Homo sapiens: one gene and its partners. The protein of the gene in region 3 interacts with the protein of the main gene of each other region in a pairwise test. Each region holds a gene or a part of one and is shown on either strand. Other genes may lie near its edges. The genes, in order: ABI3, CTTNBP2, KRT14 and PUS10.

Region 1 (7,000 bases), 7.6 Mb from region 3:
AGATGCCCAGAGCTGGGCCCAAGCAGACACTTTTCCTGTTTGGGCCAACAATTCCACATGTTCGTTTGGGGAGGAAACTGTACAGAAGAAGGCAGGCAAGCTAAGAAATCTGGGTGGAGATGAAGGAGCAGTCACTGCTCAGTTCTGGGCCTGTTTCCTCATTTAGTAAAGGAAGGTCCTGAACTAAATCAAAATCTGCTCTCCTGTCTGGTGTTAATATCCTGGGTTGATTTCTTTGCCTATTCAATCTTCTTGGTGACCTATGCTGAGGAGATGTAAGTTTTGGTGCATATGCTAATGAGATGTAAATGACATGCAAATGAGCATCTCTTTCCTGCTGTTGGAAAAGAAAGACAAGGAGGAGAGAGCCATCGCATGGGCTGCCCAGAAGGTTCTGGCTCAGGCTCCATTAGAGGCTCCCAGGTGTCTCAGACCTTGCTCTGAGAGTTTGTAGGTCTGTTCTCCATTGACAGGCCCTGAGGGGCACCCGAGGGCTCAAGCAAGGGGACCCCAGTGTGCAGCCTTGCCTGTTGGCCCACTGGCCCTACTCCACATTCACCCTGGACTTGCCCCCTACCTGCCTTAGAAAGGTACAGGCTAGAGTATGGCAACTCCATGACCCGACCAGAGATGAGGAAGCTGCCCGGGGAACCAAAAGACCGGAGAAGTTTTGCCCTAGCCCCCACTGCCTGATCTGGGACCAACAAAAAAAAATTTCTTGGCCAGGCGCAGTGGCTCACGCCTGTAATCCCAGCACTTTGGGAGGCCAAGGCAGGCAGATCACCTGAGGTCAGGAGTTGAAGATCAGCCTGACCAGCATGGAGAAACCGCATCTCTACTAAAAATACAAAAAATTAGCTGGGCGTGGCGGTGCATGCCTGTAATCCCAGCTACTCGGAAGGCTGAGGCAGGAGAATCGCTTGAACCCAGGAGGCGGAGGTTGGGGTGAGCTGAGATTGTGCCATTGCACTCCAGCCTGGGCAACAAGAGCAAAACTCTGTCTCGAAAAACAAACAAAAAAAACTTCTTGCCTTCAGCCACTGCCTGCTTACTCCTCCTGCACTGACTGGCAGTGTGACCCTGGCCAGTGCCTGGCACAGTGCCTAGAATACAGTGGGAATGTGCCCAGAGAATGTTTGGGTTCCCATTCGACCTGCTAATTAACTCACGAGTGCATATTTATGAAGAATCTTTTGCGTGTTGGGTGTGATTCCATGACGGGATACAGGATGAAACAGACAAGCTCCCTGCTCTCATGACACTTCCGTTTAAGGCAAGGGGGCGTAGATAACGAAAAAAATACATAGAGAATGTTTGATACTGCTAAATACCATGAAGAAAAGAGAACAAGGTAAATATGATAAAGAGGCAGTGAAGGCGTGGGCTGGGGGAAATCTTAGTGTGGTGAAGGAAGGTGTCTCTGAGAAGCTGAGGCCTGCTAATAAGGATTCTGAAAATAAGTACAGCACATGCCAAGGCCCCGAGGCAGAAACAGTTCAGCTTGTTCAGGAACAGAAGCCCAATGGCCAATGTGGCTGAAGGGGAGTGTGTGAGAGGGGGAGTGGTGAAGTTGGATTAAAGGGGATGAAGGTGAAGAGAAAGGCAGGAGCCAGACCTGGAGGGGCTGTACGTAGGCCACGGTTAGAAGCTTGAATTTTATCCTCAGGGTATTGGAAAGCTATTAGAGGGAATGAATGAATAAAGTCCCTCTGTTCTGGGCCTCAGTTTCCTTATTTGAGTTCCCAGACACCAATCTGCAGACTGGAGCTAAACAGTCACATGGAAAGCTTTTTTTTTTGGTTTGATTTTGAGACAGGGTCTCACTCTGTCACGCAGGCTGGAGTGCAGTGATGTGATTTTGGCTCACTGCAACCTCCGCCTCCCGGGTTCAAGTGATTCTCATGCCTCAGCCTCCTGAGTAGCTGGGATTACAGGCAGGCACCACCATGCCTGGCTAATTTTTGTATTTTTAGTAGAGACGAGGTTTTGCCATTGTAGCCAGGCTGGTCTCAAACTCCCGACCTCAAGTGATTTGCCCGCCTGGGCCTCCCAAAGTAGTGGGATTACAGGTGTAAGCCACCGTGCCTGACATGGTTTGTTGTGTTTAAAAATGTCGGCTGGGCACGGTGGCTCACGCCTGTAATCCCAGCAGTTTGGGAGGCTGAGGCAGGCAAATCACCTGAGGTCGGGAGTTTGAGACCAGCCTGACTAACATGGAGAAACCCTGTCTCTACTAAAAAAAAAAAATTACAAAATAAGCTGGGCGTGGTGGCACATGCTTGTAATCCCAACTACTTGGGAGGCTGAGGCAGGAGAATCGCTTGAACTCGGAAGGCGGAGGTTGTGGTGAGCCGAGATCGCACCACTGCACTCCAGCCTGGGCAACAAGAGTGAAACTCCATCTCAGAAAAAAAAAAAAAAAAAGAATGTCTGCTCTAGCCAGTGTTGCCTTCCTCTTTCCTTTCTACTATTCACCCCCACTCCAACCCCTAAAAGGACAGCCTGTTACTGAAGTCTTCAGGAGGGTTGTACTATCATCTGTACTCAGTCCTCAGCTTAACTATTTGAGAATGGGTATCTTTCCCTCCCTTTGCATCCATTCCCCAAGGCTGCAGATTCACTTTTTTAAAGTGAATTTAAAGTGATGTTGTAGCAAGTTCCTCTTGCTACATCATTCTGCTGGGAGCCACCTCAAACATCTAAGGGTTGCTGCTCTCTCCCAATCCAGCCCCTACTTTCCCTATATCCTCTCCCATCCCACCCCAGCCAGCCAAGGACCCAGTGGAAGATGCTGGCCCTTAGGCCAGGGCTGTGTGTATTTCAGGCCACAGACAAGCGGAAGGCGCTGGAGGAGACCATGGCCTTCACTACCCAGGCACTGGCCAGCGTGGCCTACCAGGTGGGCAACCTGGCCGGGCACACTCTGCGCATGTTGGACCTGCAGGGGGCCGCCCTGCGGCAGGTGGAAGCCCGTGTAAGCACGCTGGGCCAGGTAAGGGGCGTGGGGCGTGGGAAGGCATCTTGTGTCAGGCCTCAACTCTTCAGCCCGACTCAGACATTTTCTACATCAAAAGTTCCTTCCTGCTTTCCTCCATGTCCAAATGCCCAACTCTACAGCAGAAGGTTGGCACTTCCCAAGCTTTTTGGACCTCCTTATCTCTGTGGCTACGCTACAAATTCCCCGAAGGCAGAGCTTTTTCTTTCTCGGAATTATATCCTGGACATGAGAAAGTGTTATCTACCAATCACAGCAGCGCCCTATACAGGAAAGAAGCAAATGAACCCTGTTTGCATCTAAATACAAGCAGTGCCCTCATAAATATCCCAGACCCAGGGTGCTAGCTTGACAAGGTCATCTTCAGCCCTGGAAGCACAGCCACCACTATACAGTATACACCCTCCACCCCGCCACAGTGTTCTAGCGCACACACCCTCCTCCTTCCTTCCTGGATCCTTGACCGAGGAATTGCCCCATAAAGCACATGCACAGACCCAGCCACACATTTGGCCTGGCCTGTACATCACCCACATGTTCAGTGGGTGGGGTGTGTCTTTTCCTCCCCCGCCGCAGACCAGAGTTCCCACCCTTTCGAACTGTAGGCTTTCTCCATGGAACATTCTGAGAGGAAGTCAATTTACTTATTTGTCCCCCAAAGGGGAGAGCTGATCCAGCCACCATTCTCTGCCACCTCCATATTCTCCCCCTCTGCTCCGAAGTCAGCCGGGTGCTTGTCTCCTCCCAGCATCCCTAGGGATGTTGTGTTTTCTCTTTTCCTCCTGTTCCTGCACAGCTAATAATAACCCATACTCTCTTTCCACCAGGAAGTTGCTCCAAAGTGGCTCCATCCTTTCCTGCTACTTTTCCCAATTGCTATGTAGCCTGGTGGGGGGCGGGGGGCGGGGGGCAGGGCCCTCTTTTTCTAGACCTGGCTGCCTCCCCCCCCCAGCCCAGTCTTTATCTTCTTCCTCCTTAGGGGGAAGGGTGCTGGACACAGACCACCCCTCTCTGTCACCTTGAACCCTGTCATGCAGATGGTGAACATGCATATGGAGAAGGTGGCCCGAAGGGAGATCGGCACCTTAGCCACTGTCCAGCGGCTGCCCCCCGGCCAGAAGGTCATCGCCCCAGAGAACCTACCCCCTCTCACGCCCTACTGCAGGAGACCCCTCAACTTTGGCTGCCTGGACGACATTGGCCATGGGATCAAGGTAGAGAGAGGGGCCCTCCTCTTTCCCTCCAACCCACCCTCTCGTGCCTTGTGGCCCCTTTCCCTCCAGAACCCCAGTTCTGCAAGTTTTGTCCCCACTTGCCACTCCTTTCTTTCCCCGCTCCCTGAAACCACCACTCTGAGCTCTTCTCCCTCTCCCTAGATTTTGTAATCCCTCCCTCCAAAACTGGTCTGTACCATCCTCGGAGGATCTGCTGAGTGTGAGATCCTGAGCACCCCTCGCCCCCCCGCCCTGCCCCTGTGGGCACCGGGCGTGTGGGAAGGGGAAGAGGGGGAAGGGAGGATGTCAGGGTGTGCATGAGAATGGCTCCCAGCCACATGAGAACAGCAACTTCCTCTGTCTGGGGGTTTGAGGTCACTGCACTGAGCAGTCACCCCAGAGCTGCTGTTGGTGAGAAGAAGCGGGGATACAGCCACACAAAGGGGACTTGGTGAAGGGAGGGGAGCATGGCGCTGGCGTCTTCTCAGCCTATGTCCTTCTGCGAGGTCAGAAAGGGCACGCACTCACACCCGTCCCACCTTCAATTCCTGTCTCCACACCTTAACATTTCTGTATCAAAATGAGCCCCTTGATATCCTTAACTTATCAGCCCCCCTTAAAGGGGAAACGACATTCTCCCCTTCAACCACCAGGCCTCCTTCCCACCAGTAGTTCTCTGTTGTCCAACTTATATTTTTTTTTTTTGAGATGGAGTTTCGCTCTTGTTGTCCAGGTTGGAGTGCAATGGCACGATCTTGGCTCACTGCAACTTCCGCCTCCCAGGTTCAAGTGATTCTCCTGCCTCAGCCTCCCAAGTAGCTGGGATTACAGGCGCCCGCCACCATGCCCGGCTAATTTTTTTTTTTTTTTTTTGTATTTTTAGTAGAGATAGGGTTTCTCCATGGTGGCCAGGCTGGTCTTGAACTCCTGAACTCAGGTGATCCTCTTGCCTGAGCCACCCAAAGTTCTGGGATTACAGGTGTGAGCCACCACTCGCGGCCCAACTTATATTCTTTGTGCTTCAGCTCAAATCTCTTTTGTCTTGCCCCTGGTGAAGCCCATGGGGTAACACTGTACCCACCCCTTGGGGAAGTCCCATTGGTAACAGCAGTTCCCTCTTTCATGTAGGCGTGCACCCTGTCATTTGCGCATCCCCTCTAAGTGGCCTGGGTCTTGCTCCTCTCTGCCCTAACTCCCCAAAGCCAGTTCCACAAATCTTCGAAAATGAAAGGTGGGACACTTCTAAGTGTGATGTGTCCTCTCCTTTCTCCGCCCCCTCCTCAGCCCGATCAAAGTTAGGGACCACCAAGCCAGGGCCCCAGCTTCCTGGGCTCTGAGATGGTCTGGGGGAGGGACAGGGGTGCTGGGCCCACTCAACCCGCTGTGGCTGTGCAGAGGAAGTGGCTGTGGGCTTTGGTAGAACTGAGTCCCAGAACCCAGGCAATGACAAGGGGGTGGGGTGGGGGAAGTGTAGGAGAGGGGCCTGAGAAGTGGAAGTGGGAACTGGCTATGCCGGGCTCTCCCTCCCGGTTCCCGTCCGCCCCTCCTCCATTTCCTCTTGGGGATGAGGGTGGAGGGAGGCCCCTCACCCCAAATGTAAGCCCTACCTCCCGCTCCCTCGCAGGACCTCAGCACGCAGCTGTCAAGAACAGGCACCCTGTCTCGAAAGAGCATCAAGGCCCCTGCCACACCCGCCTCCGCCACCTTGGGGTGAGGCCTCGCCGCGACGCCAACTAGCCTAGCCCTGCCCCGCGCGACCCTGAAACTCTCCTCCCCCAGCCTCGCCACCCACCCCTGGCGCCCCCGGGTGCTCAGGCCGTCATGCTGGATGCCTGGCGCCAAACCTCCCCCTCGGCCACCTGCCCTTCCTGCTCGCACCCGACCCCTGCTGGCCAGAAGCCTTCCTCCTTCCTCCTAATACCCACTCCCTGCCCCCCGCCAGGAGACCACCCCGGATTCCCGAGCCAGTGCACCTGCCGGTGGTGCCCGACGGCAGACTCTCCGCCGCCTCCTCTGCGTTTTCCCTGGCCTCGGCCGGGTGAGACCTACAAGCCCACGTGGGTGGGTGGGGGGTGGGAAGTGGCTTTTGAGAGGGGCCACCTGCCAGTGGTCATAGTGACTCCTGGGCTTGAAAGGACCCAGTTACTCCTGGGTCACACGTGCAGGGCTGGGGTCAGGATTGGAGGGGTGGGGCCAGTTGGGGATGCTGCATTAGGGAAGGCGTGTCCGCCAACCGGGCTCTCTGGTGTTCAGCAGCGCCGAAGGTGTCGGTGGGGCCCCCACGCCCAAGGGGCAGGCAGCACCTCCAGCCCCACCTCTCCCCAGCTCCTTGGACCCACCTCCTCCACCAGCAGCCGTCGAGGTGTTCCAGCGGCCTCCCACGCTGGAGGAGTTGTCCCCACCCCCACCGGGTAAGGAGGTCCACCCTCTTCTTCCCAACCGTGGGGTCGCTTTTCTGCCTCCTGCCACTCCCCAGCCCACCTCTCTTGGATCTGCCCCGGCCAGCCTCAGTGAATGCCTCCTCCAAGGAGCGCAGCACAGGGGCGAAAGGAGACAGAGGAAGTGAACTAACATAACTTAGCGCCTGCTGTATACCAGACCCTGTGTTCGAAGATTCTCATCCATTTTCTCATTTGAACTTAATCCTGGCCGGGCGCGGTGGCTCACCCCTGTAATCCCAGCAGTTTGGGTGGCCGAGGCGCGCGGATCACCTGAGGTCGGGAGTTCGAGACCAGCCTGACCAAAATGGAGAAATCCGGTCTCTACTAAAAATACAAAATTGACCGGGCGT
Region 2 (7,676 bases), on a different chromosome or scaffold from region 3:
CACATTTCCAGGTGATTTTTAAATAACCCCAACTAATTTGGATTAATAAAAAAAGTCTTGATGGACAAAAAAAAACAGCCACAAACTATTGTCATCAAGTGAGATTTGAGGCAGGGTAAGGTGAAATTTACATCTCAAAAATTCCAAATGTATTTGAAACTCTATTAATTTGGTATATGACAATTGATTATGATTGTCTAGGAAGTGTTAATGTATTGGTTTATTTCACAATTTGACACAGGAGAGTTACACATGTATAGCTTTTCTCCTGCTTTTTGTATCCTAAGTAAATCCTCACTGAGTCAATCATAAATGCCATATGCATATTTATTAAAATCAAAAGATAACATCTTTAGTGTTCTTATTAATTCTTCGAACACTAAATTTCCTTTTGTGTTGAACAGTGCATATCCCCAAGTGAAAGAAAAATCTCAGCTGTGGTTTTGCAGCTGGATCCACACTTCTAATCAGAGGAGAAAAGGGCCTGATCTCACAACATATTTATATAGTTTTTAAACTTTCTAAGATAAATGAAGCTCCACTATGAGTAATGCCTAATGGTATAAACACCCCTGCTTTAATGATTGCCTAGTAACTATATACTGCAGGCTTGTGAGTTTGCTAAAGAGGCTGAATAAACAGAAATATTCAGGTCCATTTCCAATTCAGGTGGATAAGGGGCAAGAGCAGGCCAGATTTTTTTTTTTGTTAAAATTGTTTTTCCATAATGGTATTGCACTAAAACATCTTTCTGCACTAAAATTTACTCTTGTAAATGACTTCTGCAGATAAGCATCCAAACCAACAACTAATGATTTAAAATGTAAAAACCATGCAAGAGAATGGAACCAACACTACTTCATTGTTTGGTATTAGCTGGTTTCTGTTCTTAGAGTGACTGTACCGGGGGATGATTTTCTTAATGTGGCTCTAACCTTGCAGTCAAATCTTATATTTGTACATTATTTCAGCAATTGAATGAACAGATACAGTTCCCAGTTAAAGGTTGTATTAAAAGGGGCTGGGAGTGATTATGATAATTATTTATGTTTCGCTTTGGCTTGCTTCCTACATAGCAGATTTAATTCCCTAATTATGTTTTGCTTTAGCTTAGGTAAAATTAGCTTGCATTCCTTTGGCACACACCAACTGCAGTTGGTGGAGGAGGCCTTCCAAAACCATAGATTGTTGACAAGAGTGGCTAACTAGATTAGAATTAAATTTACTGAGTAAAATCCACAAAAAGCCTGAGGCACATGTAGCTAATGACATGTGCTATGAGGGAATGTAGTTAGGTCATAGGAAAACTTGTTTCTGGCAATGGACACTCAGAGCTCATCTGCGGAGTTCCTGACGTCAAGATTTGGGGCTTCCTAGGTTGGTCACCATGCTGCAGACAGGGACAAGCATGGTCTGCAATATTTAAATTGTATAACTATAGGCTTGAGGATACAGTCAGAAATGATTTGCTACTCAATAATTTTGTCATTTGGCAATACTAAGACATGATGACATATGGTTTGCTCTTTGGAATTAACATAAATGTTGTCATTTGACTGAAATAAATAATTCTCTTACTCCATGACGGAAAGAGTTTTAGGTTCTGTGTATATTCCTTTATCTTTTCACATGGAAGGAAGCATCCTGTTGTATCATATGTATAACTCTGGGTTTTTGGTTTAGTGGGTTGGAGGATATGGCTGATGAAGCCAAGGACATGGTTTAATCAGAAAACCACTTGGCTCCCAAACATCTGTCTGCATTCCCACCTTTAAGAACTCATTTCCCTGGTCATTTCACCCTTAGAGAGTGTGCTATAGCTCAACACAAATACCTCTATTCCAGGGTTTGGAAAATAATTACCCTCAAATTCTTTAGTCAGTGGGTCATCAGCATCGTTATGATCCAAAAAAAGGATGTAAATAATAGTTTTCTCTATTTGCAATATATTCAGTATTACTCCTTCCATTTTAATGCCAAAAGGAATTTACTGATTAAGACTCATGATTCATTTTTGTTGTAGGGATTTATTTTCCTCCTGTTTATACTTCTATCTTTCTCCTTTTTTACCCTGCCTTTCAGTAATTTTCACTGTAACCCTGGGATATCTTTTATTTTTATTATTAATTATTATTATTATTTAGCTGTTTAATGAGGCTTCAAAAGATTTAATTTCTGGAGCCATCAAGTCAATACCCTTTCACATCTATTTGCTTTGACTGTAATAGAGCCTGCCTTTGTGCAAAGAAAGTCTTAGAAAGAGTTAATTTGCAATAGTAGCAGAGACTAATTCTCAAGAGAGAATTGAAACCAGCAAGTGTCCTCCTGGTGGAGAAGCAGCCCCAGGCCAGGCTACTAGTGAGGAAGTTAACTCCTAGTGTGCCACTTCTGTGCAGTAGGTGAGATCCTCAGCCAACCTTCAACAGTGCTGGTTTTAAGGTGGAAACAGAATGCTGTCAATTCTCCTTCCCAGGTACTGGATTTTGGTGGTTAGAGAATGTGGTGTCCTGTGATTTTTATCACTGTTTTATTTATTTTTTTTCCATTTCACAAAAACAAACAAAAAATGATGGGTGGGGGTTTGCGGTGGGGGGGGGGGGTGGGCAAGGACTGATTTCCTTGTAACATGATCCTGCTTTAATTGTATTTAGGTGAATACAAGCTAATTTTTTCCCAGTGATTTTTTTTTAAAAATTGGGCTGCATGTATAAAAGGGATTTGCTTCCCAGAGATGGTGTCATTTCATATTTCTAACTCTTAACCCTGAGTAAAACTTATTATTATTATTTTTTCCAGAAGTTTGCCAGTTAATTGCTTGAGAAGTATTCAACATCAGAATCAAGAAAATTGATTGCCTTGCAATGTGTGGAAGTGCATTTTGAAAAGAACAAGGAATGCCCTTGGACTTTAAATTTTTACTATCAGTTTGACATCTAACTTTTACTGTCCAGTGGTTTTCTTTAATCTTAAAGAAATCTAGTTATTCTAATATTGAGCAGTTTTAGAGAGTATACTTAATAAAGGAAAGTGGTATAATGAACAGGGATGGATATTAAAGGGATAAGTGAGGGAGTAACTATCAGAGCCAATATAAATAAATAAATAAATAAATAAATAAGTACCTGTACTCACAGGATAACCTGGAGATGATTTCTAAGCCTCTGACTTTTAGCCCCAGAGTTCTAGGTAAAGTTCTTTCTTGACCTCTCTTCTGGGAGGGAACTTTTCACAGTTTATTAATCAATCCCTTTCAGGGTCTTTGCAGAAAAGATTTTCTCTGCCCTGGTTTGTGTCATATTTGGGTCTAATTTGGAAAGTGGAGCAATTAAAGAGTCAAAACCTTTCATTAGGAGCCTGCCATTAAAAAAAGAAGAAAGAAAGAAAGAAAGAAAAAAGGAAAAAAAAAAAAAAAGCTTTGATCTGTAACCCTTGGACTGAACATTCTAGTCATTCATCTTCCAAAATTTCAAGTGCAAGATTTGGTTGTGGTTTGATTTTACGTCTTTGAGACACAGCTTGAATGTCTCAATTTGATTTTATGCATTCGACACATTTTTAGGGATCTGGTGATTTGGGAAGGGCTGTACCATATGGTCTTGGTGAGGTGATAGATTTTCACATTCTGGAAATTGGCAGCAAAGGGTAGGAACTGAATTAGATGTGGAAAGGGAAGATTAAGCGTTTGGGCCTAATTCACTCATCTCATGAAAAATCTTCTGAGACGTGTAATTCCCATAAAATCTATTTTTACAAATACGGCTTTTGTTTGATTGTTTTTGGTGTATATGTACACGTGTCCTCACACGTAGGGAGTAATTTTTTTAAATTCTCTCAAAAGTAGAGGACATGACATTTAGCTTTTAAAGCTATGACATTTAACACTTCTCAGTTAGTCCTTCAGGAGAGATCTCAGACTTAGGGGGGTCACAGAATATAAAACAGCCCGCTACACATTCCCTGAAAAGGAGATTGTATAGAAAGTTAGGAGCTGAGGGGCTGGTGCCACGTTCTAAAAGAAAACAGGACAGACAAATCGTTTTCATCTGAGAATTGTTTTTGGAGAAACACTAGAGTCAACGATAGAATAAATCAGAGCCAGGTGTGTATATATATAGGGAGGATAAAAACACCCTGGCGGCAATGAAATTTAAGAAAGAGCAATTTAAGAAGAAAGGGGTGCCCTGTGTGATTCCTCGCGGTGGGATAGAGGGAGCTGAAGTGTAGGATTTTCCCTGATCTTTCAGAGAATTCAGATTCAGGAGGCCTGACATTTAATCTGGTCTGTGCACGGATTTCTCCGGCTTGGTTGGGGTTCTGCGGAATGCAACGCTCCTCGGGCGCTTTCTGCCTTCACCTCTTCCGTGGTCTTTGATCCCCAGTCCCCGCGCAGGGCCGCAGCGGAGCCAGGTCGTGCGCCCATTTCTCGCACCTCCACGAGCCCGCGGCTGGCGCCACCGGGCGCGGGACGCGGGGCGCGGGGCGGGACCGAGGCGGGGCGCTCCGGCGCGCAGCGGGTTAAGCGGCGAGGGCGGTGGCGAGGGGCGGAGGGAGTGCCGCGGCTCCCGGCTCCCGGCTCCAGGCGCCCGCGTCCCGGACAGCAGCGGGTTAAGTGCCGCCCGCGCGGAGACGGCTGAGTCCGGAGCCGCGGCTCCGAGCTCGCATTCGGATCCGCTAGAGCAGGAAGATGGCGACGGACGGCGCGAGCTGCGAGCCCGACTTGTCCCGGGCCCCGGAGGACGCGGCGGGGGCCGCGGCGGAGGCGGCGGTAACCGAGTTCCCGGGGCGGGCGCGGGGCTAGTGTAGACGCGGGCCGGGGGCGGCGCCGGGGTCCCAGCCGGACCCGACTTCGCACCCCCGGGGCGTTCCGTAAGCCCGGGACTCTCCGGTGCCCCTTCATCGGGGCCCCCCTTCCTCGGGATGCCCACACGGCGGAGGCCGCGGGGGGGAGCGGAGCGGCCACCCTGGCTGGGGATCCCTCCTGTCCCTTCCGCGCCCCACGGGAAGCGGCCCCGGGTCGCCCGGTTCTCCCAGCTCCCTGTCTGCGTCCAGTGCGACCCCTATGCCCACTCCCTCCGCTGCGGTCGCTTCTGGCCGGGGGAGAAGGCTGGGACGTGTTTCCTGGCGAATTTGACCCCCCATTGTTCACCTCTCGCTGCGCGCGTGGTTGCCAGCGCGTGTCTCGGGGGTGCCTGGTACCGCTCAGCGGACCCGGGAGAGCAGCTTGGGGGAGGTGGGCCATCGCCCAGCAGGTGTGGGGATGCCCATTGTGTGCATCTGGTCCTGTGCCTTCGGGAGGCCCACTGGGAGAGGGCCGTGTCCAGATGTGGGCGCTGCTGCCGCTGAGGCCAGCGCTTTAGGTCCTAGCAGCCTGCTGCCCCATTACTTGGTGGTAGTGATTGGGGTGGGGTGGATGGATTGGTTCTTCCCGAGACGATGCTCAGGAGAGGTGGAGGTTCTGCACCTGGTTTCAAGACATTGTTCTCCTTCTCTGGAGTCTAGAGGCCGAATGCGCTACCATTCTTGACTGGTCCTTACTTTCACCCCCTTAATATTCCGGTGTAGAGACTCGCTGGTGGTTTCCAGCCTCTACTTTGGGGAAGGGCTGGACCCACATTTCCTGGGTGGAAAAGGTTCTCGGTGTTTGGGAAGCAGCTTCGCAGGAGCTGCAAGGAGCTGCAGAGAAAGGCAGATCTGGGAGCGCCTCCCACTCTTGGCCAGATCTGGCTGCTCCCGCCGAAGGATGGGGTGGGATGGAGCGAGCGGGGCGTGGACGCCCCCCTCTTCCTATCAAGACCTGAGCAGAATCAGTGCAGGAGAGGGCAGGGCCGGGCGTAAACAGCGGGGGCCGCTTTAACTTCCTCCCACCCTCTGGAGGTAGGGCTTTCTGGAGAGGGAGAGGAGAGATGTGGAGGAAGGTACTTGGGGTGAGAGGAGCTGAGCCTGGCAATGGAAGGAGAAACGGGGAGGAGGACTGCTAATTTCCACTTGTAAAACTGGCAAGTTTTGATTTGAACTTTTGGGAAAATTGAGTTTCCATTCTTTGCATAGAAAATGAGAACTTTAAGATTTCAAACGAAACCTGCCCACTTATGTGAATCAGCTCCCCTCTGTGGGGCACAGTAAGGAAACTAGCTATTGAGACAAGGCTCTCTGGCAAGTGGAAATGATTTGGTGCCTTCATCCCCAAAAGGTGGGAAGGGGAAGGACGAGGAAAAAGAAAGAGGGTGTGTGTGTGTGTGTGTGTGTGTGTGTGTGAAGGGGAAGGACGAAAAAGAAAGAGGGTGTGTGTGTGTGTGTGTGTGTGTGGTGTGTTTCTTGTTCCCCAGAAAGGTTGAATTTGTTTACTTAATCCACTCAGAATGGGTTTCTGTTACCCTCAATATTTTAATCACCTGACAATTAACCCAAACACAAACATCTGACTGATGGTCTGTAGAGCTGATATATAGTTTTGTTTGGTTAGATCGTAAACAAAACCCAGGACGCCAGGCAGATTTCTGTGTTAACAAGGTCAGTGTTCCCTCTCTTCTGTTTAAAATGTTCAAGTCTGATTTTCACTGCTGATAGTTGGGGATTTGATAATTTCACCCTTGTTAATGGGCAGAGCCATGGAAAATCTGCGAAAGTGAACCTTCTTTGCTATTTCCATAGAATCCTTTAGGGTTGCGAGATGCAATAAGGATTCTTCATCTAGTAGTTTAAAAACCAGTAATAATTTCTGAATTTTTAGTAAAATTTTGATGATGGCTTTTGTAGTAAATTGGGCCTTTTATTTTAGTTCTCCAAATAGTTTTGACTTAATAAGGCATGGTTCTCTCATATCAGCCGCTTGACCTATAGACTGATTTTTAAGTGAAAGGAAAGCTAGTGTAGAGGAGTGATATGTGTCATCACAATTGCTCCTTAAAAATCAGAGGCGTTTTATGCATTTTGGGTTCTTGTTGACTGATATTTTTTATTTTAGTGAACAATTCACTTTGCATTTTGGAGATTTGTTGACTTTCAAATTGGTTTACATATCGTGCATTTTTATGTATACATTTGGCAGTAAGGAGTCAATGGAAGCTCTAAAGCAGTAGGCTATTTTTGAAAGTGAGTGTTTTCACTAAGCTTTGACTATTTAGATTGTTGCTTAGAAACAAGCTTAATTTATAGTTTTCAGTTTAATATCATTTTTAGTGGAATGTTTTAAATTTAGTTTGTGATCCTCATTCTTAGCTGTTTAAATCCTGAAAGCATCCCAAGTTTAAGGCTGGGTAACAGCTACATTATTCAATAGGATCATATTAATAGTCTTTGCCGTGAACCGTGCCGGGAAACCTGGGCTATTTTCAGTGCCTTAGCCAAATGTGATGACTTTTATAGGCCATATTGCTGTTTCCACTCTGAAAATAACTCCTAATGGATAAGGCAGTATGGAAAACGAAATCTTCATGCTTTTTATTGTCACCAAAGAATTTTGGAATGAAAGGAAAATGGAGATCTTTTTAGAGCTATATTTGGGAAGCCAACCAACATTCTTGTCATTCTGAGCTTTTCTGGAGCAGCTAATAGACAAGAAGTAGGTATAAAATTTGTTGTCATGGTGGCAGTGACAAAGAAAAACTTGGACAATGATTTAAAATGCACGACAGTGATGTTAAACAAATTAACAGCTGAACTTGAAATTTTTGTTT
Region 3 (7,555 bases):
ACCTGGCCTCTCAGGGCATTCATCTCCTGCACAGCCAGGGACAGTCCACAGTCAGGAGTTCCACCATGGCAGCGGATTGGTGTTCCTTAGGCCTGAATACTGCCCTCCCACCATCACAATTCTATCTCGACTCTCCCTTCTCTCTCTCTCTCTCAATCTCTCTCTCTCTCTCTCTTTTTTTTTTTTTTTTTTTTTTTTTTTTTGGACAGGGTCTAGCCTTGTTGCCCAGGCTGGACTCAAACTCCTGTGTTCAAGTGATCCTCCTGTCTCAGCCTCCCAAGTAGCTGGGACTATGGGCACGCACCACTGTACCCAGCCTCCCTGCATTTCTTTTAAGCTGACTTTTCCATATAGTTCTCACCTCCTCGTGGTTCTTCTTCAGGTAGGCCAGCTCCTCCTTCAGGCTCTCAATCTGCATCTCCAGGTCAGCTCTGGCCAGGGTCAGTTCGTCCAGCACCCTGCGCAGGCCATTGATGTCGGCTTCCACACTCATGCGCAGGTTCAACTCTGTCTCATACCTGGAATGACCCCAGAGAAAAGGTATGAGACACCCATCCTGATCACAGCGAGGGCTTTGTTCTCTTCTCCCTGCAGCTTCTCCCAGAGCTGGTGCCTTGTGGGTGGTTTAAGGAGCCAATCTTGAAAATGGCGTGGTTGAACACAGTGCCCATTGATTGCTCAGATATGAACATTCCTGCGGGCTGGGGATAAGGCAGTTCATCTTGCTGCAGAAATCAGGAGGGGGTTGCACTTCTAGCTTCAGCCAACAAATAATGCAGAAGTCCTCCAACTATGATTCCTTCCTATACTTCAAGGGCAGCTGGGGAAGTGGAAAGTGCCTCTCCCTAAAGCAGCGGTTCTGAAACCTGGCTGTGGACCAGAATCACCCAGGTAACCTGCTATAAATAGCTGAATCAAAACTCCAAGGGTGGGGCCCAAGAGTCTTATTCTTTTATAAGCACCCCAGGGAGTTTTCATGCACCTATCCTGGTACTGGCTAGTTCTATTTGGGAAACACTGCTCCAAAAATGCCCTACTCTGGGGACACTGGATGTTCTGGCCCACCATTTCAAACTCACTTGGTGCGGAAGTCATCCGCGGCCAGACGGGCATTGTCAATCTGCAGAAGGACATTGGCATTGTCCACTGTGGCTGTGAGAATCTGCAGGATGGAAAAGGCACAGGTAATTTGTCAAATGGACTTCACAAGCTGGACTTCACTGTAGCCTACATTAAGCTCTTGCTTCATGTTCTTGCCTGAATCCCCCTTTTCCCCCACAAAACTTGACCATAGCAGCCCAAAGGAAAACAGATGCCCCAGGCCTGTCCTAAGACTTTGCTAACTCATGGTCAACAGAGGGGGTAGATGCAGCCCCGGGCTTAGAATCGAAAGCCCAGGAGTTCTGGTCCCAATTCTGCCAGTGTCTTGCTGCAAAACCTAATGGGTCTTGGGGCTTCAAGTTCCCCACCTCCAGGTGAGGAGAATAATCTGAGGCTCCCTAGCCCTCCTTCCTGAGCTGACCTCTCTTCTGTCTGCATCAGCCAGCCCTGCCAGTCCTCTGCAGATATGCACATTCCTTTTCAAGCTCACAGGCCATGGGACTTCAAGTGGAACTTTCTCAAGAGATAAAACCCAACTAACACAGGGGATTAGAAAAGAGGACTCAGGGGAAGAATAAGAAGATATATTGGCCCCTGAGTCTGGTTGGATTTCCCCACCTCATCATTGAATTTCCCTAATCCATGCAAGTCATTAGAGCCCAACAGACTCCAGCAGGGAGGGCTCCCAAGTAATGTGGGAGCAGGGAGGAGGGGGCTAGAGTCAGGGCACAAGCCTGCCAGGCTCTCTCTGTGCAGGGCACATCAAGGGACCACACTAATTGTCTCTGCAGGCTCTCCATGCCCGCCTGGCTGTGGGGAGGGACCAGCCTGTACCAAGGCTTATGGGCGGCGGCAGCCACAGCCCAGACTAGTGAGCTAATGAGTGGTTTGGATGTCTTGCCTGGTCCCGTTAGAGCCTCACTCCTCCCCTGTGCTGGAGAACAAGTAGCTGCCTCCTGTGCTGGAAGGTAGGGCACAAGGGCCCCAGCCTTGGCTCTGCCATTAATTTGCTATGTGACCTGCAGCTGGTCACAGCACCTCTCGAAGCTTCAACTGCTTCCTCTAAAAAATGTAAGGATAGGAATCACTGATCTCACATGGTCTGAGGATTTGAGATCAGAAGGGGATGAGGAGGCTGGGGAAGGGAAAGCATCTTCTCACTGATCAGTCTTAGGGCATCCAAGACCTCGAAAGAAGGGATCTGGGGTGGACTCTGTCCTATAGAGAAATCTTAAGGTCTCAGGGGCCTGGGGCATGAATTGTTCCCAGAAGGAGCTAGCTGGAATGGTGCCTTCTGCTGCCCATTCACCCACCTTGTTCCTCAGGTCCTCAATGGTCTTGAAGTAGGGACTGTAGTCTTTGATCTCAGCAGGCCGCTGCCTCTGGTACCAGTCACGGATCTTCACTTCCAGGTCGGCGTTGGCCTCCTCCAGAGCACGCACCTTGTCCAGGTAGGAGGCCAGGCGGTCATTGAGGTTCTGCATGGTCACCTTCTCACTGCCCACCAGAAGCCCATCACCACCAGCAAAGCCACCACCAAAGCCACCACCCAAGCCAGCACCAAGGCCACCACCATATCCTCCCCCAAAGCCACTACCAAAGCTGCTGCTGCTGCTGCTGAAGCCACCGCCATAGCCGCCCCCCAGCCCGCAGGCTCCCCCAGAGGAGAAGCGGGAGGATGAGACAGACAGGCCGCCCCCGTAGGTGCTGGGGGCGCGGCAGGACCCTCCGGCCAGGACGGAGGAGATGCGGCTGGAGCCGCCCCCGATGCCGCCCCCGATGCCGCAGGAGCCCTTCATGGAGCTGGAGGAGGTGAACTGGCGGCTGCAGGTGGTCATGGTGCAGAGGAGGGAGGTGAGCGAGCGAGCAGTTGGCTGAGTGAAGAGAAGGTGCTCGGGTAAATTGGAAAGGGATGCGAGTGCTTTATACTCGTGGGTAGGGGGCGGGTCTGGCACTTTCCATTCCCCTTGGCTTTCATCACCCACAGGCTAGCGCCAACTCCCAGCCAGGTCCCTCCTCTCATCCGCCTCATCATGTCTGTCATATTTTACTGGAAACTCATTGTTTGGAGTGTTTTGGGCTTTCTTGTCCCGCCAGGCGTGATTCACAGGGGGAGGTGTGGGCCTGCAGGCTACACTTTCCCATCGGACCCTGGGAGTCCCAGCCCTCAGGAACCCGCGCACTGGGCTTAGCCAGGGTGACAGAGAGCAGGGCCTCTGCACCTTAAACCTAGTTACCTGCTAGCTCTCCATGAACTGAATGGGCCTTTAACATCCACGTAGAGGAAGCCTGCTGCTGCAGGGGATGGATACCCGGCTGGAAAGCACCGGCATGGCAAGGTCACCTTGGGCACAGACAGGCCTCCCTCACCATGACCCTCTATTAGAGACAAGGAGGTCTGGGGGGCCCTCCCAGGCCTGACCTCCCATGCTGTGCTGAGAAGTCTGTCCCATCCCTGAAATACACCCAGCTAGTCAGGTGTATCGTGGTTCCCACCCCAACATCCCCATCAAAGAGAAATCCAGGCAGCTCTCCCCAGCCCTGAGCACAGACCCTAATCTCCTCCCTATGGTGAGGATCTCACATCCACCACACCATAGGGCAGGTGGCCTCATGGAGGCCAGGAAACAGCCTGGAGTCAGGTGGGTCCTGGCTCTGCCATTTACGCCTCTGTGACCCAGGGCTTGGCACTTCTCTGAGCCTCAGTGTTCTCATCTGCAAAGTGGGAGTCATACCATCTATTCTGCTTAGTGCAGTCAGCTCTGAGAATCCAATGCGACAATGTATGTGAAAGGGTTTTGTAAACCGAGTATGGCAAGAAGCCTCGTTGGCATTGTTATAGCCCAGGCTTAGCCCCAAAGTGGCTGGAGCTGCATCCAGGAACAGGCCTAGGGGGGCCTTTTATTCTTCCAGCCCCAGATATCTTCTCAGACCCCCAGAACATCCCTAGTGTGGGCAGCTCAGGCGCCCTCGTTTGAGCCCCTTGTGGAACTGGCCCAGGAGATGTTCTGGGGAGGAGTAGAGGCTGGAGTGGAGCTGGGCTGTGCCAAGGGCAAGGCTGAGGTGGACACGAGGGTCCCTGACTCCTGAAGCCCCAAGGGTCAGGGGACATTTCTAGGAGTCCACTTGGTCCTGCTTTGGAGGTGTGTATATCAAAACTTCAGCAATCTCCCAGACAACCTCCCAAAGCAAACCCTTCCGGCCCCCACCCCACCCTCCCATCAGCCCCTAGGCTCCACAGACCCCGGCAGGCATGTTGAGAGGAATGTGATCGTGTCTGGGGCTGCCTGACGCATCCTATCTCCTCAGACAGGCCCCAACAGCCCCTGCTGGAGGCTCCAATGCTCTTCCTGGGATCAACTGCTCCTAGAAGAGAAGCAGGACCCTCTGTCACCCCCAACCCCACCTTGACTGTCACCAAAGAAGAAGCCAGAGAAGGGAGCCCCCCACTACTGTGGCCTAGGAGCTTGGAAGACAATGCTGAGACAGACATCTGAGCTGTGGGCTCCCCAAATCTGCCAGCAAAGGACTCTCAAGGATGTGAGTAAGCCAGGGCCCCACCCCGCTCCACCCGCCCCTGACAGACACTCCTAATCTCCCTGCAGAGAATGGTCCCCCCACCCTGGCCCAGCCCTACAATTTCCCCAGAGAGAGGCAACAGGGGTTTTGGCTGAGGGACAGATGCTTTTGTTGGGAGGCATGTTGCTGTTGGCTGTGGGGCAAGGGGAGGCTGTGCTCACTGGAGAAAAATGCTGTGTCCAGAGGGATCTGGGAGCGGGAATGGGGTGCAGAGCCCAGTACCGGCTTCCTCTGTGCCCCACCACCCCCACCCACCACCACCACCACCATGTCTCCTTCTTATGCAGGGATCAGGAATAGAAGCTCCGGAGCCCGGGACATAGGAACAGCTCTACTTTCCCTTTCATTTCATTCAATAAAACCCAAAAGAAACTCCTTCCTCCCCCTCCTCCGAGGGGAATCCAAAAGATAAAGATGGCAGGGAACCAATGACAGATCAGTCAATCACATAATCTTAAAAGGCACTTCTGCAGTCCCACCCCAACCCCACGCACCAACACCAGAACCCTAGCATGGAATATAAGCCTGATCCCCCACACCCGGTCTTAGAACCGTGACCCAACCTGGAGCCTGAGGCCAACCCCTGCAGACAAGGACTCAGTGACCAAGGAGCTGCAAACAACCCAGCCAAGCAGGGAGCAGACTTAGAGGACACCACACTCCCCTCCCCTCCCTGATGCCAAAGAAGCATGGTACTCAGACATTTTAAGGGAGGGCATTTTCTGGGGCATCAGGGGTTAAAGGGTTGTCAGTCCTGACTGCTGAGGCCCAGAGTACCCCCCACCTCTGGACTTCTAGGCAGACTTTGTGTGAGCACCATTACCTGACCCTCCCTCCAGCCTGCCCCAAAAGGAGGGGGGTAAAGGAGGAGCCCCGGGCAGGACCTCTTGTGGTTAGTGAGTCTCCCTGCACCACCCTGCATGGGGGAGCCCTCTGCCAATCCAAACAGGTGAAGCTGGCAGGGCCAGGCAGCACCTCCAGAGCCCACACTGTGTGCTGAGGACTGTGCTGGGGACCAGGAGATGGCATCCTAAGGAAGGAGGAAACCTCAGGACAGCCCCCGCCCTTGGAGTGCATGGCCTACTGGAAGAGACGATCCCTGCCTTTAGGAAGGTCCCAGCATGAAAGAGAAGCAGGAATGCACATCAACATTACTTAACATACAAACAAATGGAAGAAAAGCACAGACAAGTAAGATTGGTTTCCCAGGGCTGCCATAACAAATTACCACAAATTTGATGGCTTAAAACAACTGGCTGGGCACAGTGGCTCACGAATATAATCCCAGCACTTTGGGAGGCCAAGGCAGGTGGATCACCTGAGGCCAGGAGTTCAAGACCAGCCTGGCCAATATGGTGAAACCCCATCTCTACTAAAAATGCAAAAATTAGCCAGGTGTGGTGGCAGGTGCCTGTAGTCCCAACTACTCGAGAGGCTGAGGCAGAAGAATCACTTGAATCCGGGAGGCAGAGGTTGCAGTGAGCCAAGATCACGCCACTGCACTCCAGCGTGGGCAACAGAGCAAGACTCCGTCTCAAAAAAAAACAACAGAAATGTATTCTCTCTGGAATACATTCTGGAAACCATAAGCCCTGAATCAAGGTGTTGGCAGGGCCACACTCCCTCTGAAGACTCTGGGGAAGAGCCCTTCCTTGCCTCTTCCAGCTTCTGGTGCCTCCCTGAGTTCCTCGGCTTGTGGCAGCGTCGCCCTATCTCTGCCTTCATCTTCATACAGTCTTCATCTCTGTCTTTTTCAGTCTCTTGTAGGACACTCATTGGATTTAGCAATCACTCTAATCCAGTAGGATCTCATCTCAAACCTTACCTTACTTACATCTGCAAAACCCCTATTTCCAAATAAGGGCACATTCTGAGGTCCCAGGTGGACCCGATTTGGAGGAACCCTATTTGACCCACTATACCGCATAACAGACTGGGTGCTTGTCACCTTGCAAAGCAATAGTAAAAACTGGGTGGAGAGATAGATGGTTGAGATGAGATGTGGGGGCGGCCCAATCTGGAAGGCTTCTGGGAACAGCCTTTAGCGTGACACGTCAAGTCACCAGGGACTGGATGGCAGGGAGCCACGGAACTCTCAGGTCTTGGGTCCGTACTTGACATCATCCACTTTTTTTTTTTTTTTTTTTTTACACAGGGTCTCCCTCTGTTGCCCAGACTGGAGTGCAGTGGTGGGATCACAGCTCACTGCAGCCTCAATCTCCTGGGCCCAAGGGATCCTCCCACCTCAGCTTCCCAAGTAGCCAGGACTGCCACCATGCCCAGCGAGTTTTTACTTTTTTGTAGAGACAAGGTCTCACCATGTTGCCAGGCTGGTCTCAAACTCTTGGGCTCAAACGATTCTCCCACCTCAGCCTCTCAAACTGCTGGCATTACAGGCATGAGCCACCACACCCAGCTTCTTTTTTTAAAAAATGTTTATTTTGAAATAATGTTAGACTTGGCTGGGTACAGTGGCTCACACCTGTAATCCCAGCACTTTGGGAGGCCAAAATGGCAGATCACTTGAGGCCAGGAGTTTGAGACCAGCCTGGCCAACATGGCAAAACCCCATCTCTACTAAAAAATACAAAAAGTTAGCTGAGCGTCATGGCAAGCGCCTGTAATCTCAGCTACTCGGGAAGCTGAGGCAGGAGAATTGACTGAACCTGGGAGGCAGAGATTGCAGTGACCCAAGATCGCACCACTGCACTCCAGCCTGGGCAACAGAGCAAGACTCTGTCTCCCAAAAAAAAAAAAATGAAATAATGTTAGCCTTTAAGAAAAAGTTACAAAATAGGACAGAGAGTTCCTGTGTATCCTGTGTATCCTTCATCCAGCTTCCCCTAATGTGAACATACTACATAAGAATCATACA
Region 4 (7,955 bases), on a different chromosome or scaffold from region 3:
AACTCCATCTCTACTAAAAATATAAAAATTAGTTGGGCATGGTGGCATGCACCTGTAGTCCCAGCTACTCAGGAGGCTGAGGCAGGAGGACCACTTAATCCCAGGATGTAGAAGCTGCAGTGAGCCATGACTGCACCACTGCACTCCAGCCCGGGTGGCAGAGTGAGACACTGTCTGAAAAAAAAAAGGAAATTAGACTCAACAGAAAAACCTATCTAGCTATAAAACTTTGATACAAAACCAGAATAGTACAAAGAAAAAAAATTCAATTTCACCTAGGAACATGTATGCAACAGTCTCACAATATTAGAATAGAGTTCTTTTTCTTTTTGGAGACAGGGTCTTGCTATGTCACCCAGGCTGGAGTGCAGTGGTATGATGACAGCTCACTGCAGCCTTGAACTCCTGGACTCAAAGGGATCCTCCCACCTCAGCCTCCCTAGTGGCTAGGACTACAGGCACACACCACTACACCTGGCCAATTTTAAAATTTTTTATAGACAGAGTCTTGTTATGTTGCTCAGACTAGTCTTGAACTTCTGGCCTCAAGCAATCCTCCTGCCCTGGCCTTCCAAAATGCTAGGATTACAAATGTGAACCACTCCAACTGGTTTAGAATAGAATTTGGAATTGCATATCAGAAAAAAATCAAGACTAATCAAAGTTCATTGAGAAATGCAAGGATGGTTCAACAATAGAAGGTTGATACAATAAACATTTTCTCTAATCTTGTCTTCTCACTTTATTTCATCAATTTGATCTTCAATTACTGATATCCTTTTTTCCACTTGATTGAATCAGCTATTGAAGCTTGTGCGTGCATCACGAAGTTCTTGTGCCATGGTTTTCAGCTCCATCAGGTCATTTAAGGTCTTCTCTACACTGTTTATTCTAGTAAGCCATTCATCTAACCTTTTTTCAAGGTTTTTAGCTTCTTTGCGACGGGTTAGAACATGCTCCTTTAGCTCGGAGAAGTTTGTTATTGCCGACCTTCTGAAGCCTACTTCTGTCAACTCGTCAAAGTCATTCTCTGTCCAGCTTTGTTCCGTTGCTGGCAAGGAGCTGCGATCCTTTGGAGGAGATGAGGTGCTCTGATTTTTAGAATTTTCAGCTTTTCTGCTCTGGTTTCTCCCCATCTTTGTGGTTTTATCTACCTTTGGTCTTTGATGTTGGTAACCTACAAATGGGGTTTTGGTGTGGATGTCCTTTTTGTTGATGTTGAAGCTATTCCTTTCTGTCTACTAGTTTTCCTTCTAATGGTCACGTCCCTCAGCTGCAGGTCTGTTGGAGTTTGCTGGAGGTCCACTGCAGACCCTGTTTGCCTGGGTATCACCAGCAGAGGCTACAGAACAGCAAATATTGCTGCCTGATCCTTCCTCTGGAAGCTTTGTCCCAGAGGGACACCTGCCTGTTTGAGGTGTCTGTCAGCCCCTACTGGGAGGTGTTTCCCAGTCAGGCTACACGGGGGTCAGGGACCCACTTGAGGAGGCCGTCTGTCCGTTCTCAGAGCTCAAACACCATGCTGGGAGAACCACTGCTCTCTTCAGAGCTATCAGACAGGGACGTTTAAGTCCACAGAAGTTTCTGCTGCCTTTTGCTCAGCTATGCCCTGCCCACAGAGCTGAAGTCTATGGAGGCAGTAGGCCTTGCTGAGCTGCAGTGGGCTCCTCCCAGTTCAAGCTTCCTGGGCGCTCTGTTTACCTACTCAAGCCTCAGCAATGGTGGATTCCCCTCCCCCTGCCAGGCTGCTGCCTCGCAGATTGATCTCAGACTGCTGTGCTAGCACTGAGCAAGGCTCCATGGGTATAGGATCCGTCAAGCCAGGCATGGGAGAGAATCTCCTGGTCTGCTTGTTGCTAAGACTGTGGAAAAAGCCCACTATTTGGGCAGAAGTGTCCCATTTTTCCAGGTATAGTCTGTCACGGCATCCCTTGGTTAGGAAAGGGAAATCCCCCAATCCCTTGCGCTTCCTGGGTGAGGTGATGCCCCGCCTCGATTTGGCTCACCCTCCATGGGGTGCGACCAGTGTTCAACCAGTCCCAGTGAGATGAACCAGGTACCTCAGTTGGAAACACAGAAATCACCCGTCCTGTGCGTCAATCACGCTGGGAGCTGCAGACCAGAGCTGTTCCTATTCCCACATTTTCATACTAAAGCGAAAATACATACAATGGTCTCAACAGATGCAGAAAAGCCATTCATAAAATTTAATATTTCTTCACAATAAAAATCTGAGCAAGGTAAGGGCTGGGCATAGTGACTCACACCTGTAATCTCAGCACTTTGGGAGGCCTAGGTGGGCAGATCACCTGAGGTCAGGAGTTCAAGACCAGCCTGGCCAACATAGTGAAACCCCATCTCTATTAAAAATACAAAAATTAGCTGGGCGGAGTGGCACGCGCCTGTAGTCTCAACTGTCCGGGAGACTGAGGCAGGAGAATCACTTGAACCCAGGAGGTAGAGGTTGCCATGAGCCAAGATTGCGTCTCTGCACTCCAGCCTGGGAGACACAGTGAGACTCCATCTCAAACAAAAATAAAAATGAAATAAAAATAAAATAAAATAAATCTGAGCAAGGTAGAGAGAGAGAATTTTGACAAGATATCTATCAAAAACAAAAAGCAAACTTCACATTTAACAGTAAAACTTCAGAAGCACTCCAGTGGAAGTCAGGACCAATACAAGGATGCTAGCTTATCTGTAAATGACAGAACTGGCTACACAAAACTAAAGAGAATTTCAACCAAACCATCAGAACTAATTAAGAGTTTGAGATTATGCTGTACATAATATTTACATTAAAAAAAATCAATAGCATTCTGCCATACCAGTTAATAACCAACTGGAAAATGTAAAAGGAAAAAAGAAAGCCCATTTGCAACTACTACAGCAAAAATAATCTAGGAATAAAAAATAAAATATGGAAAAAAATTTCATGGAGGTAATTATAAGTTTTTTGTTGTTGTTGTTGTTTGAGATGGAGTCTCCCTCTGTTGCCCAGGCTGCAGTGCAGTGGCGTGATCTTGGCTCACTGCAAGCTCCGCCTCGTGGGTTCACGCCATTCTCCTGCCTCAGCCTCCTGATTAGCTGGGACTACAGGTGCCCGCCACCGCACCCAGCTAATGTTTTTTTGTATTTTTAGTAGAGACGGGGTTTCTCCGAGTTAGCCAGGATGGTCTCGATCTCCTGACCTCGTGATCTGCCCGCCCAGTCTCCCAAAGTGGATAATTATAAGATATTTAAGGCAAAAAGATAAATTCCCACCAATTGTAGCTTATACAATATTCATGGAATAAAAACTTACTTGATCCATAAATTCAGCTCAGTTCCAATAAAAATCCCAGTAAGTCTTTTTATAAAGGACTAAGTGTAAAGAGCGCAATTACAAAGAACAGCAATGTGTGGAAACTCTTGACATACTACATATCAAGACTTATAAAATTCTGTAATTAAGATAGTGTGGTGCTAGTAGAAAGTCAGAAAATGCCCAAAACAGAACTACATATTTAGGAAACCTTGATATGACATAGATGGCATTAAAAACTAAGAATAGACTACTCAATAAATGGTGCTGCGACAATTAGTTACCTATATGGAAAAAAAAATTAGATTTTTATACAAAGTCAGTTCCATGTGGATTAAATGCAAATGAAAAAACCGGAAGATTTAAAAGAAAACATACAGAAAAACTGTCCTGATCTAGGTAGACAGGATTTCTTAACCAAGACAAAAAGCATAAACAATAAAATATGACAATTTTGGCTGTATTAAAATCAAAAACATCTGTACAAAAAATTGAACATAAATATAAAGAGGAGAAGCCACACAGTGAAAAATATTAGCAAAATGTAGTAACAAAAAAGGATTAGTTTAACAATACTCTTACAAATTGGTAAGCAAAGATAAAGCCAATAGAAAATTGGGCAACAGAAAAAACAAAAACAGATACAAAAAATAATATATAAATAGTAACATGTAATTAGATATAAAATATATATTATTGTTACATTGTTAAGTTTTAGATATAAAATGCATATAAATAGCACAAACCTAAGTACTAAAATATAAAAACATTACTGGGTATGCGAAACACCAAATAAGGACAATAGTCACCACTATAAAGAAGAATGGGAGAGTTTAGCCGTCTTTTATTTTGAAAAATTCGACATAAGTCTGGCAAATGTTAACACTGTTTAAAGTTGAGTAGTGAATATATAGGTATTATCTTACTCTCTACTGGTCTCTGTGTTTAAAATATTTCACGATAAAGTGGGAAAATGGTTAATTTTACATAAAAAGAACTTTAACAGATGCAAAAAATAAAACCTCTCTCATTCGACAAGCAGCCTAAATGGGGAAAAAAGAACCCACTCAAAAAAAAGGTAGCAGATAATGTCACCGTGGCTTACCAGCCTAATCAAACTTATTACTTGTTATGTATATATCCTTATTAAACTAAGTCGTTACTGTGTTAAAGCATTTTAGTGTTTAAATAAAAGATTTCAGAATACAGCAGAAATACATTCCAATATGTTGGGGTTTTTACGCTTAGGAAAACCTACAATAGTAGGTGATTTGACATTTGAATCACACCTATCTGAATTAAGATGTCCAGCACTACCAAACAAAAGCCACACGAGGCCACGAAACACTCCCAACTCTGCATGTTTTAGCCTTTTTAAAGTCCTAGAAACCAACTGATACTGATTAAAAACCAAACAAAAAAAAAATACAGGCCTCAGAAAAATACACTATTTTGCACACAAAGTCCATCCATAGGCCTCAGATCTAGAACTCCTGCTTTAAAGTTGCTTCTCCAATCTCGATCCGAAACACTGGCTGAGTTATGCTGGAAAAGAATGCAAAGTGTACGGGGCTTGAGTTCCTGTTGCGTAAAACCTTTCCGGCTTTCAGCAACTTCTCGAGAGGTTAACACCTTTAAGGAGAGACTTTGCTCCCTGTCGATGCCGTGGCTGGACAAATGCCGCTCTCAACTGCTACAGACCAAAGTCTACGCTTTAAAGATAGAGAAGCCATTCTGTCAAAGTGAAAACAGAAGCGGTAGGTAGGAAGCCGCCCCCCTTTCTTTCAAGCACAGAGACCCAGAGAGACGCCCAGGAGCTCCCGAAAAAAACGTTGCTGATTAGAGCTGCCGGGTCAGAAACAGCTGTGAGACACTAAAGTCCCCACTGGTAAGCGCCCCAGCTCCACCTCGGCCCCTATCCCCAAGGTTGGGTATTGGTTAAAGGGGGGAAGGGAATACCTCCACTAACAACCGCTACAACCGCCTCCTGCCAAGTCCCCGCTCGGGCCCACTAAACTCACAGCCTGAAGAATCCCACACTCACTGGAAAGTGGGGCCCGGTCCTGGTCCCGGTCCGGCTCCCGGAATTCGGCGGGTCTCCCAGGGTTTGGGGGGAGGTGGCGGCTGGGACGCCATCTCCTCCGCCTCCTCTCGGCTCCCGCTCCTACCCCTGACTGTCCAGGCCCGCGTAGACCAGCACCTGGAGCGTAAGACACAACGGGCAGAACACCGAGCCGTCCACCCCGCCCACCCTTGCAGTCAGGACAAGGCTTGAGTTACTTTGCCAGCTGAATCCATACAGCGGGAGGATGCCACTAATTTGTAGGAAGAAACACGCTCTTTGTATTTGCCCCAGAAAGAGCTGCCTTTCTAAACCTCAGGGTAAAGGCTCATCGATATTTCTGGTAGCGGCTACAACTCCCTAGACGTCGGAGTCCCACCGAGGCTTTTCTGGGAGTGGACCAGTCGGGCTGGGAGTAAAGCCGCACGCACTCCTTCGCTCGTGGGGGAGGTAGGGTGAGGTGGCAAACCAGGCAGTTTTTCGGATTTCCTCTACAAACAAGAAGGGAGAAGCTCACTTAGTCCTAGCGAGAGCGGGCTGGTACTTTTGTTCTAAAACGCACGTTTCCTCGGGGAACAGAATTGCTAGACGCAATAGGTGCGTTGTCTTTAGTCTTCCCTCTTCCCTTCGAGGGCCGGAAGGGGTTAAATCTCAGGCTCCGGCGTCTGGGGAGAAGGTGAGGCGGGTAGGTAAGAGGTGAAGGAGTGCAGACTGGGTGCAAAAGAGGTGTGGCGGGAGAGAGTTCGTTTCTCTCCTGCTGGAGCGGCTTTGTTAGCAAAGGAGGGGTGAGTGGGAAGTTTGTTGCACCTGACCGAAGGGGGAAGGGCTTGCTTGGCGAAAACTGAGGCTTGAGGTTAGATCTCGGGATGAACTTTTCAAGAGTCCACAGTAGATTCCAGAGCTGAATGTTTCAGAAGCCCAGTGAAGTGTGATCACCTCTTTCTCCGTAAATCCACACCCCCAGCCCCACGCCGCGTTACGAATGACACCCTTCGGTAGGGAAATGAGTTTTAAAAGATCTTAGGATATGAGACTCAGTCTGGTCATTTCGCTAGTTTTTCTTATACCCTGCCCCTTTTCTCGTTTTCGATGACTGGTTTTTGTAATCGTCCAAGAGGTGAAAATAAAGTCCTTCCTCTCCTCCAGTAAGCCAGAGACTGGGCTAGTTATCCTTGATTTGGGGAGGAGGGATTCAGTCCTCCTAGGGAGCCTGACACATGAAAGGCGGCTTTGTAGCAACTTGTTACAGAGTTATTTCTATAAAACAAACACATAAACGAAAAGCAAACATCTTGAGGGTAACCAACACTGGAAAACTTACATTGTGGAATGCCTTTCTCAGGGCTTGCTTTCAAACATAATAAATCTAATATGGACAACCGATTTCTAATATCTTATGAAATCCTGGCATTTAATTATCTCACGATGAAAAAACCAAATTTAAGACGTAACGTATTTTCTCCTTTTAATGTTAACATTCTTGAGAAGTTGATAAATTGTTGGTAGGTGAAAATGATGTTGAGAGGTTTGTAAATTCATAGCTCGTTTATTAACACACATTCAAAAGAGGTCTTTTTTGGGGTCTATTTTTAGACCTCTTCAAATTACTCAGGACTGGAAGTTTTGTAATTCTCATCAATCAGGTTTGGGAACTTCTCAGAGCCAGGAGATTGTAATGTGTCATTTATTTACTTTGCATGATACCTTTGTTCTTGTGAACTTACTGGAAAAATAAACATTGTCTTCTAGCCATGGAAAATAAAATAAATTTTAATATAGCTATTTAAGTATCGAGGGAAATCTTCATTAAGTGTCCTTTTAAAGTGCTTATTGATTTATTGGAAGAGGGTGTATTTCTTCTGTCTCTTTTTGAGTTAAATGTTACTTCTGAATTAAGTAAAATTCTTGACCTTAACTAATGGAGAAAAAATAACTTAGAGTAACAGGTGAAACAGAAACAGTTTCTCTGTGTATGTAGTCAGAGATGCACTGTAAATGCTTATATTCGCCCCTCACAGCATCCGATCTCTTCTCTGCATCAAAGTAGATTAAATGGGCTGGGAAAAGGGATCCAGATCACTAGTAAATAGTAATGACTTGACCTTGACCACACAGATCTTATTTATTTATTTATTGAGATGGAGTCTCGCTCTGTTGCCCAGACTGGAGTACAGTGGCACGATTTTGGCTCTCTGCAACCTCTGCCTCCTGGGTTCGGGCGATTCTCCTGCCTCAGCCTCCTGAGTAGCTGGGACTACAGGTGCGTGCCACCACGCATGGCTAATTTTTTGTATTTTTAGTAGAGATGGGATTTCATCGTGTTAGCCAGGATGGTCTCGATCTCCTGACCTCATGATCCTCCTGCCTCAGCCTCCCAAAGTCCTGGGCTTACTGCAACCTCCACCTACTGGGTTCAAGTGATTCTCCTGCCTCAACCTCCCGAGTAGCAGGGATTACAGGTGCACACCTCCACACGTGGCTAATTTTTGTATTTTAGTAGAGATGGAGTTTTACCATGTTGGCCAGGCTGGTCTTGAACTCCAGACCTCAAGTGATAATGCCTGCCTCGGCCTCCCAAAGTGCTGGGAT

The links.
Region 1: the proteins of KRT14 (region 3) and ABI3 interact in binary tests that used the Homo sapiens proteins (3 or more experiments, as listed by UniProt).
Region 2: the proteins of KRT14 (region 3) and CTTNBP2 interact in binary tests that used the Homo sapiens proteins (3 or more experiments, as listed by UniProt).
Region 4: the proteins of KRT14 (region 3) and PUS10 interact in binary tests that used the Homo sapiens proteins (3 or more experiments, as listed by UniProt).

What each region holds. Positions count from the first base shown.
Region 1 is NC_000017.11:49,213,707-49,220,706, forward strand, and holds part of ABI3 (ABI gene family member 3), read left to right. Parts: intron 1-2,824; coding exon 2,825-2,992; intron 2,993-4,032; coding exon 4,033-4,209; intron 4,210-5,833; coding exon 5,834-5,919; intron 5,920-6,151; coding exon 6,152-6,247; intron 6,248-6,462; coding exon 6,463-6,620; intron 6,621-7,000. UniProt on the Homo sapiens protein: May inhibit tumor metastasis. In vitro, reduces cell motility.
Region 2 is NC_000007.14:117,870,424-117,878,099, reverse strand, and holds the start of CTTNBP2 (cortactin-binding protein 2), read left to right. Parts: upstream 1-4,658; 5' UTR 4,659-4,684; coding exon 4,685-4,765; intron 4,766-5,716; exon of another isoform or gene 5,717-5,874; intron 5,875-5,879; exon of another isoform or gene 5,880-6,163; coding exon of another isoform or gene 6,164-6,190; intron 6,191-7,676. UniProt on the Homo sapiens protein: Regulates the dendritic spine distribution of CTTN/cortactin in hippocampal neurons, and thus controls dendritic spinogenesis and dendritic spine maintenance.
Region 3 is NC_000017.11:41,583,896-41,591,450, forward strand, and holds the start of KRT14 (keratin, type I cytoskeletal 14), read right to left. Parts: upstream 3,001-7,555; 5' UTR 2,940-3,000; coding exon 2,415-2,939; intron 1,163-2,414; coding exon 1,080-1,162; intron 519-1,079; coding exon 362-518; intron 27-361; coding exon 1-26. UniProt on the Homo sapiens protein: The nonhelical tail domain is involved in promoting KRT5-KRT14 filaments to self-organize into large bundles and enhances the mechanical properties involved in resilience of keratin intermediate filaments in vitro.
Region 4 is NC_000002.12:61,015,245-61,023,199, reverse strand, and holds the start of PUS10 (tRNA pseudouridine synthase Pus10), read left to right. Parts: upstream 1-4,944; 5' UTR 4,945-5,192; intron 5,193-5,348; coding exon of another isoform or gene 5,349-5,440; exon of another isoform or gene 5,441-5,480; intron 5,481-5,768; exon of another isoform or gene 5,769-5,963; intron 5,964-5,976; exon of another isoform or gene 5,977-6,361; intron 6,362-7,955. Other genes in the region: PEX13 (peroxisome biogenesis factor 13), read right to left, coding at 5,349-5,440. UniProt on the Homo sapiens protein: Protein with different functions depending on its subcellular location: involved in miRNA processing in the nucleus and acts as a tRNA pseudouridylate synthase in the cytoplasm.